2 separate regions of the Homo sapiens genome follow, and region 1 is linked to region 2. The links come from fine-mapping of genetic effects on gene expression. Tissue or cell type: whole blood. Region 2 holds a variant in brackets; the other region holds the start of a gene. All regions are shown on one strand. Distances are between the middles of the regions. Region 1 holds the start of TESMIN (testis expressed metallothionein like protein). Region 2 has its middle 19 kb from the start of GAL.

Region 1 (4,389 bases), 48 kb before region 2:
GGGACACAGAGCCAAACCATATCACAGAGGAAAAAGAGAACAAGCCAACCAGTTGAAGGATTTTAAGTGTTCTGAGGCAACTAAGAGGATCATTGGGAGGGGGTGGTAGCTGGCAGGGAGGTTGACCCACTTAGAGTGGGTTGAGCTGAGACCTGAGAGACTCGACGGAGCCAGCCCGGCCAGTGCAGCAGGGCAGCAAGCATCTAGGAGCAGCAGGTGCAGAGCCTCCAGGCTTGATTGCAACCCGTGGGTGACCCCCACAGGTGGCTGTGTATGCCTGGCATGATGCTACTCAGTAGACGTCTGATTCTGATTAGTAAACGAATGAACGGTGCAACCTTGTGGGTTACTCTCTCGCTTGGGCCACTCAAGCTATGCATAATTCTTGGGCTCTTCGATTTATTATTTTTATTATTTTTTCTGCTTCTGTGAGTGTTTTTTGTTGTTGTTGTTTTTGTTTGTTTGATTTTTGAGATGGAGTTTCAATCTTTTTGCCCAGGCTAAAGTACAATGGTGCAATCTCAGCTCACTGCAACCTCCGCCTCCCAGGTTCAAGCAATTCTCCTGCCTCAGCCTCACAAATAGCTGGGATTGCAGGTGTGCACCACCATGCCTAGCTAATTTTGTATTTTTAGTAGAGACAGGGTTTCACCATGTTAGTCAGGCTGGTCTTGAACTCCTGACTTTAAGTGATCTGACCACCTTGGCCTCCCAGAGTGCTGGGATTACAGGCATGAGCCACCACGCCCAGCCCCAGGCAAAATTTTCTTGATTTTTGAATGTTAAATGTACAACTAAATAGTACACGGTGTTGCTGTGCCTTGGGTACTACCCTTTAAAAATTTAGAAAAGTATTTAATTTTTAAAAGTGAGATTAGAAAGCTGATGTTTTACATTCTTTATTTTTACCAAAACAGTACCTGAGTAGACAGTACCTGAGGCTGTCTCCCCAGCACCCACTCCCACCAGTCCCTCTACACCCTTTGCAGTTTTCGCCATCACTTGAATTAAACTTTCACCTCCTCTTGATTAAACAGTGATATCTATTGACTCCTTAAAGATGAAATAGCTCATTCCCCACCCAAAATTTGAGACTTTCATTGTATTTGTGAGTTTTTTTTTTTTTTTCTGAGAGGGAGCCTTTCTCTGTTGGTCAGGCTGGAGTACAGTGACACAATCTCAGCTCACTGCAACCCCCATCTCCCAGGTTCAAGCCTCAGCCTTCTATGTAGCTGGGACTACAGGCGTGCGCCACTACGCCCAGCTAGTTTTTGTATTTTTTAGTAGAGACGGAGTTTCACTATATGTTGGCCAGGCTGGTCTCGAACTCCTGACCTCAGGTGATCCACCCGCCTCGGCCTCCCAAAGTGCTGGGATTACAGACGTGAGCCACCACGCCCAGCCGTATTTGTTACTTCTATTTCGGGACCAACTCCATCAGTTGCACCTGTAAGCTGCGTCACCAAGGACCGGGAGTGGGTGCAAGGCTGGGAACGTGCGGTGCAAGCCCCTGCCCTCTGTCCACCCGCAGCGTCCCAGGCCGGGATCTGTCTTGAGAGCTCGAGTGTAGAAAAATGTTTTATTTTATTTTATTTATTTTTTTGAGACGGAGTCTAGCTCTGTGGCACAGGCTGGAGTGCAGTGGCGGGATCTCGGCTCACTGCAACCTCCACCTCCCGGGCTCAAGCGATTCTCCTGCCTCAGCCTTCCAAGTAGCTGGGATTACAGGCGCGTGCCACCACGGCCAGCTAATTTTTGTATTTTTAGTAGAGACGGGGTTTCACCATGTTGCCCAGGCTGGTTTTGAACTCCTGACCTCAAGTAATCCGCCTGCCTCGGCCTCCCAAAGTGCTGGGACTACAGGCGTGAGCAACCACGCCTGGCCAGAAAAATATAACTGAAGCCCAAGGTCAGAAGCCAAGCTAGGCAGTCCCACTTAGCGCTGCCCGAGTTGATGGGGACCTCAGTTTCCCCACCTGAGCCTGGATCGGCTGAACCTGGGAGTGCCTCCCCTGACCCGCTCTGGCAACAGCGGCAGTCCAGGCCCCGCCCCTCGCGACTCTGTCTCCTCCCGCCCCAGACCACGCCCACCACACCTCCCTGGCCCCGCCTTTACCTCCCCGCCCCGACCTCGACTCCGCCCCACGCCCAGGCCCCGCCCACTGCCCGGGCGCCTCTTCCCCTCCCCCCAGGTTCCTGTCCCTCACCCTTCCCCCTTCTCCAACCGCCAACGGCCGCCTGCGCCTGAGGCCCGGCCCACGCCCCATCCCGCTCGCTCCACGCTGCGGCAGCCCCGGCGGCCCCAGGTGCGTCCCTCCGAGGAGGAATGACGGGGCGGTCCCCGGGCTGGGCCTCGGCTCTGCAGGCGGGGATGGGGGCTGCCGGGCCGGGTCGGGCCCCTGCGGGTGGGCGGAGGGCGGCGGGCCGTGGGCGAGGCCGCCCCTCACCTGGTCGCACCTCACCTGGCCCCCCCTCCCCTGGCTGCTCCTCACCTGACCCCCTCCTCGGCCGCCCCTCACCTGGCCCCCTCCCCTGGGCGCCCCTCACCTGACCCCCACCCCGGCCGGCCCCTCTCCTGGCCGCCCCTTACCTGGTCGCCCCTCCCCTGACTCCCTCCCCTGGTCGCTCCTCACCTGGCCGCCCCTCACCTGGCCCCCTCCCCTGGCCGCCCCTCCCCTGGTCGCCCCTCCCGTGACCCCCTCCCCGGCCGCCCCTCCCCTGGTCGCCGCTCACCTGACCGCCTCCCCTGGTCGCTCCTCACCTGGCCGCCCCTCACCTGGCCGCCCCTCACCTAATCGCCCCTCATCTGGTCGCCCCTCCCCTGACCCCCTCACCTGGTCGCCCTTCCCCGGGCCCCTCACCTGGCCCTCCCTCACCAGGCCGCCCCCTCCCCTAGCCGCCCCTCACCTGGTCCCCTCCCCTGGCCGCCCCTCCCTTGGCTGCCCCTCCCTTGGCTGTCCCCTTTCCTGGCCGCCCCTCCCCTCGTCCTCTCCTCTGGCTGCCTCTCACCTGGCCGCGTGTTGCAGGTGCGCGGCCCCCGCCATCCCGCCCCGCCGCCCTGCGCCATGGAGGAGGGCCCTCTGCCGGGCGGGCTGCCCAGCCCCGAGGATGCGATGGTGACGGAGCTCTTAAGCCCCGAGGGTCCGTTCGCTTCGGAGAACATCGGCCTGAAGGCCCCCGTGAAGTACGAGGAGGACGAGTTCCACGTCTTCAAAGAAGCGTACCTGGGCCCGGCGGACCCCAAGGAACCCGTCCTGCACGCGTTCAACCCCGCGCTGGGCGCCGACTGCAAGGGCCAGGTCAAGGCGAAGCTCGCGGGGGGCGACAGCGACGGCGGGGAGCTCCTCGGGGAGTACCCCGGGATCCCAGAGCTCAGCGCGCTGGAGGACGTCGCGCTCCTGCAGGCCCCGCAGCCGCCCGCCTGCAACGTGCACTTCCTGTCCTCGCTGCTACCCGCGCACCGCAGCCCGGCGGTGTTGCCCCTGGGCGCCTGGGTCCTGGAAGGAGCCTCCCACCCGGGCGTCCGCATGATCCCAGTAAGAACCGCCTGGGGAATGGGCACAGCTCCCCCTCCATCCCTTCCCCAACCCATCTGAGGCTGCTAGTGTACCCCAGGATTTCCCTCTACAAGCATTTTCCCTGGTGACACCACACACAGCCCACCGGAGTCACTGATTCTCGGTAGAGCGTATACTCTTTGTCGTCTTCCTAATCCAACATGCATCGGCCCAGCCAAGCCCTTTCCCCTGGAGGGAATTCTGCCCTGCACCAGTCGTCCAAAGCTGACCTAACCATGCAGACGGCGGACAACAAAAAAAGGGGGAAAGCTAGGACGTAGGTTCCCTTGGGCCCTGTTGCTATCCTTGGCTTAAGGAGAGAGGCCCGCTGTCTGCTGGTAACTATTGTCTGTGAAAACAAACGCAATGTGGTGGAGGGTTGGCGTGTTTGCATCTTGCATTTTTTTTTTCCTTTAACTTTACCAGGCTTGGAATCCACAGCAAGGACTCAGAGTTAATACTTGGATTTTCCGGGCCTTGAAGTCAAGATGTGAGATCTTCCCTTTGCTAATGAGTAATAGCTCTTCAAGCATATGCAATGTAAATCAGAGCCTAAAGAAATGCTTGCCAGCTCTCAGCCGACTGCCCTCTCTAGCTGTAGATGACCGCTGATAATTTTCCGCTTTGTTCTTGCCAAAACTAATGAGTTTTCAAAGGAAACAAAGGGTCCCAGGAAAATGTGTTCTCGACCCCTCAAAAAGGACCCAGCTCAGAAAACGAGACCACTCATCCATGAGGTCATTTTAGTAAGTTGTAGATGAAGCGTTTGTGGGACACAATGCTTGAGTCAGTATTGAGATGGCTGGAGCCTGACCCTGTATCATAAGCCAGA
Region 2 (4,389 bases):
TGATTAAGGTTAGATTATCTGTTGGTTTTGGGTTTTTGTTTTGTTTATCCGAAAGAAAAAAAAACCTTGTTTTTTCATAGACACGGAGAAGAAATCATTGTTTAGAATGACACGCGCTGAAATCGCTCTTTCCTGTCAGTGAACACAGGCTGCGCACTGCACAGAAAGTCTGGCGGCCAGGGAGCATCCTTAGGAGAGAAGGTGCTGTTGGCGGCGGAAGGTCAGCAGAAGGCTTGGTGTATTTTTCATCTCGGCTTGGATGCTCCTATCCCTTTACAAACCTCTCACCAGTACCTGAAGTTCTGCCAGCACTGGTCCCCTTTCAGTGTGGGCGCGGTTTCAAACCATAATAAACAAGTTATCGTAAGGAGTCAGTTAAAATACTGTCTTAGGGAATTCAAAGGTTGAACCCTCATCCAAGATAAAATGATCAGAGCAGCCAGAGGATCCAGAGAGCAGGAGGGGGCGCAGAAGACGAAGCAGGGAGGAGGCCTCCCGTTCTGCAGGCGGCGCGCTCTTTAGGAAGGCACCGGGCACAGCTTTGTGCATGGGGCCGGCTGTGCGGTCTCCGTGCTGCACTCTCTCCCCAGGAGTCCTTAGCCTCAGAGGAGGGAGGAAGCACGACAGGAGGGATCACCGTGAGGCATCTTCCCCCAGCCCTGCCTCCATCCTGCTCCCAACCCCCGGCCCCCGGCAGAGACTGGAGAGCCACAGGGAGCACTGCCCGGCCCCAGCCACCGATAAAACTGGAATTGAAGACTGTCATTGCATGGATGTTCTCTTCATATATTTAAAAATGACTATCAGGAAAAAGTTTGAGCCTCCTAAAAATGGTAGCTGGTTTGTTTTTCAACAACAAACTTTAATAAAAACTTTAATGTTTGATATTTTAAATTTTGCCTTGACTTTCAGGAAATTCAAAAGTAAATCTATTCAATACCAGAAATCACATTAGCCCAGGTTTAGGATTAACTGTCCCTCTCTTTTTTCCATAAAGCTTTACTTTTTTAAACATGCTTTTTATTTGTACTATTACATACATCTTTTACTGTAAACCATTTCATATGTTTGTTGGAAATAGATGGACTATAGAAACATTATTACCGAATTATGAAGACAGAGTCTGCAGTGACAACCTTTTTAATGATGATTCCCTAGAAATATATATATTTTAATAGAGGCAGAGTCTCACTCTGTTGCCTATGCTGTAGTGCTGTGGTGCGATCATAGCTCACTGCAGCCTCAAACTCCTGGCTTCAAGCAATGCTCCCAGGTAGCTAGAACTACAGGCTCACACCATCATACTCAGCTAAGTTTCTGTATTTTTATTTTTTGTAGAGACAGGGTCTTGCTATATTGCCCAGGCCTCAAACTCCTAGCCTCAAATGATCTTCCCTCCTTGACCTCCTGAAGCACTGAGATTACAGGTGTGAGCCACCATGCTGGGTCTCTATTTATTTATTTTTTTTACTAGAGTATTTTTTAGGGTAGTTTTAGGTTCACAGCAAAACTGAGCAGAAAGTGCAGAGATTTCCCATATAATCCATGCCCCCCAACACCGCAGCCTCCCCACTACCAACATTCCTCACCAGAGCCGTCCTTTTGTTACAACTGATGAACCTACAGTGATACACCATCATCCAAAGTGATACACCACAAACCCAAAGCCCATGCTGAC[G/A]TTAGGATTCCCTCTCGTTATTCCACATGCTATGGGTTTTGACAAATGTACAATGGCACATATCCAGGGTTACAGCACACAGAACAGTCTCACTGCCCTAAACCACCCCTGTGCTCTGCCTGTTCATCCTTCCCTCCCCACAACTCCTGGCAATCACTGATATTTTCACTCTCTCCACAGTTTTACCTTTCCCAGAATGTCACTTAAGTGGGATCATACAGTAGGTCGCCTCTTCAGACTAGCTTCTTTCACTTAGTAATATGCATTTATGTCCTTCATATCTTTTCATGGCTTGATAGCTCATCTCCTTTTAGCACTGAATAATATTCCATTGTCTGGATATACCACTGTTCATCCCTTCCCCTCCTGAAGAACATCTGAGTTGCTTCCAAGTTTGGGCAACTCGGAATAAAGCTGCTGTAAATATCTGTATGTAGGTTTCTGTGTGGATGCAAGTTTTTAATGCCTTTGGGTAAACATCAATGGATTTACCCAATGATTCTGGATCATGTAATAAGAATATATTTAGTTTTGCATGAAACCACTATCTTCTTCCAAAGAAGCTGTTTCATTGAGTATTCCCACCAGCAGTGAATGAGAGTTTCTGTGGCTCCGCCTCCTCACCAACACATAGCGTTGTCAGTGTTTGGGATTTTGCCGGTTCTAATAGGTGTGTACTGGTATCTCATTGCCATTTTAATTTGCAGTTCCCCAGTGACATATGATGTTGAGCATATGTCCATATGCATACTTGCCAACTGCATATCTTCTTTGGTGAGATGTCAGTTGAGGTCTTTTGCTCATTGTTTAATTGGGTTGTTTCTTTTCTTATTGTTGGGTTTTAAGAATTCTTTGTATATTTTGGATAACAGTCCTTTATTAGATACGTCCTTTGCAAATATTTTCTCCCAGTCTGTGGCTTGTCTCCTCACTCTCCTGACAGTGTATTTTGCAGAACGGAAGTTTTTAATAAAGTCCAGCTCATCAATTTTTTTTTTCGTGGATCATGCCTTTGGCATAGTGTCTAAAAAATCATTGCCATATCCAGACCATCCATACTTTCTCCTGTGTTATCTTCTAGGGATTTTATTTTATTTTATTTTATTTTTGAGATGGAGTCTCTCTCTGTCCCCCAGGATGGAGTGCAGTGGGGCAATCTCAGCTCACTGCAACCTCCGCCTCCTGAGTTCAAGTGAGGCGACCCTCCTGCCTCAGCCTCCTGAGTAGCTGGGATTACAGGCGCCTGCTACCACACCTGGCTAAGTTTTGTATTTTTAGTAGAGACGGGGTTTCACCATGTTGGCCAGGCTGGTCTCGAACTCCTGACCTCAAGCAATCCTCCCACCTTGGCCTCCCAAAGTGCTAGGATTACACGTGTGAGTCACTGCACCTGGCCAATCTTCTAGGAATTTTATAGTTTACAACTTACATTTAGGTCTATGATCTATTTTGAATGAATTTTTGTGAGAGGGATAAGAGGCTTTATCTAGTCTTTTTTTGCATATGAATGTTCAGTTGTTTTGGCACCTTCTGTCAGAAAGGCTGTCTTTTCTCCATGGTATTGCTTTTGTTCCTTTGTCAGATATCAGTTGGCTCTATTTGTATGAGTCTGGGCCCTCTATTCTGTTCCATTGATCTATTTTTCTATTCTTTTACTAACACCACACCATCTTGATTACTGTAGCTTTATAGTAGCCTTCCAACTTTGTTCTTTTCTTTCCATTTTTTTTTTTTTGGCTATTCTGGGTCTTTAGGCTCTCCACATAAACTTTAGAATCAGGTTTTTTGTTTGTTTGTTTGTTTGTTTGTTGTTTTTGAGACAAGATCTCACTATGTTGTCCAAGTTGGAGTGCAGTGGCATGTGATCATAGCTCATTGCAGCATTGACCTCCCAGACTCAACTGATCCTCCTGCCTCAGCCTCCTGAGCAGCTGGGACCACAGGTGTACATCACCATGCCTGGCTAATTTTTTTTATTATTTATAGAGACAAGGTCTCACTATGTTGCCCAGGGTGGTCTCAAACTCCTGGGCTCAAGCGATCCTCCTGCCTTGGCCTCACAGAGTGCTGGGATTATAGGCATGAGCCACCATGCCTGGCCCAGGAATCAGTTTTTTGCTATCCACAAAATAACTTGCCAGAATTGTTATTGGAATTGTGTTGAATTTATACATCAGATTTGGAAGAACTAATATTTGACAATATTGAGTCTTCCTATCCACAAGCATGGAATATTTCTCCATTTATTTAGCTCTGTATTTATTTCTTTCATCAGAGTTATATAGTTTTCCTCATATAGGTTTTGGTAAATGCATGCCTAAGTATTACATTTTTGGGAGGTGCTAACGTAAGTGGTATTGCATTTTTAATTTCAAATTTTACTTGTTCATTGCTGGTATATAGGAAAGCTATTGACTTTTGTTTATTAACCTTGTATCCTGCAACTTTGCTATAATTGCTTATTAATTCCAGGACATTTGTTGTTGTTGTTGATGATACTTTTAGAGTTCTACATAGATGATCATGACGTCTGCAAACAAAGCTTTATTTATTCCTTCCCAATCTGTAAACTTCGTATATCCTTTTCTTATCTTATTGCATTAACTAGGCATTCCAGTACAATGTTTAAAAGAGTGATGAGAGGGGACATCTTTGGCTTCTTTTCTCACTATTAATTATGATATTAGCTGTAGGTTTTCAGTAGGTGTTCT

What was found.
Region 1: TESMIN starts here. The variant in region 2 is fine-mapped to the expression of TESMIN in whole blood (TOPMed, PIP above 0.99).

What each region holds. Positions count from the first base shown.
Region 1 is chr11:68,749,337-68,753,725 of GRCh38, reverse strand. It overlaps TESMIN (testis expressed metallothionein like protein), which reads left to right and starts at 2,206. Exons shown (of 10, transcript NM_004923.3): 1 at 2,206-2,306; 2 at 3,027-3,536. The coding sequence starts at 3,066. RefSeq lists silencers at 1,974-2,093, 2,104-2,393 and an enhancer at 2,094-3,079.
Region 2 is chr11:68,701,301-68,705,689 of GRCh38, reverse strand. It overlaps a transcript of TESMIN not described here. Among named protein-coding and RNA genes, the nearest start is that of GAL, 19 kb to the right of the region's middle. The variant G/A (reference allele first, on the strand shown) is at 1,679.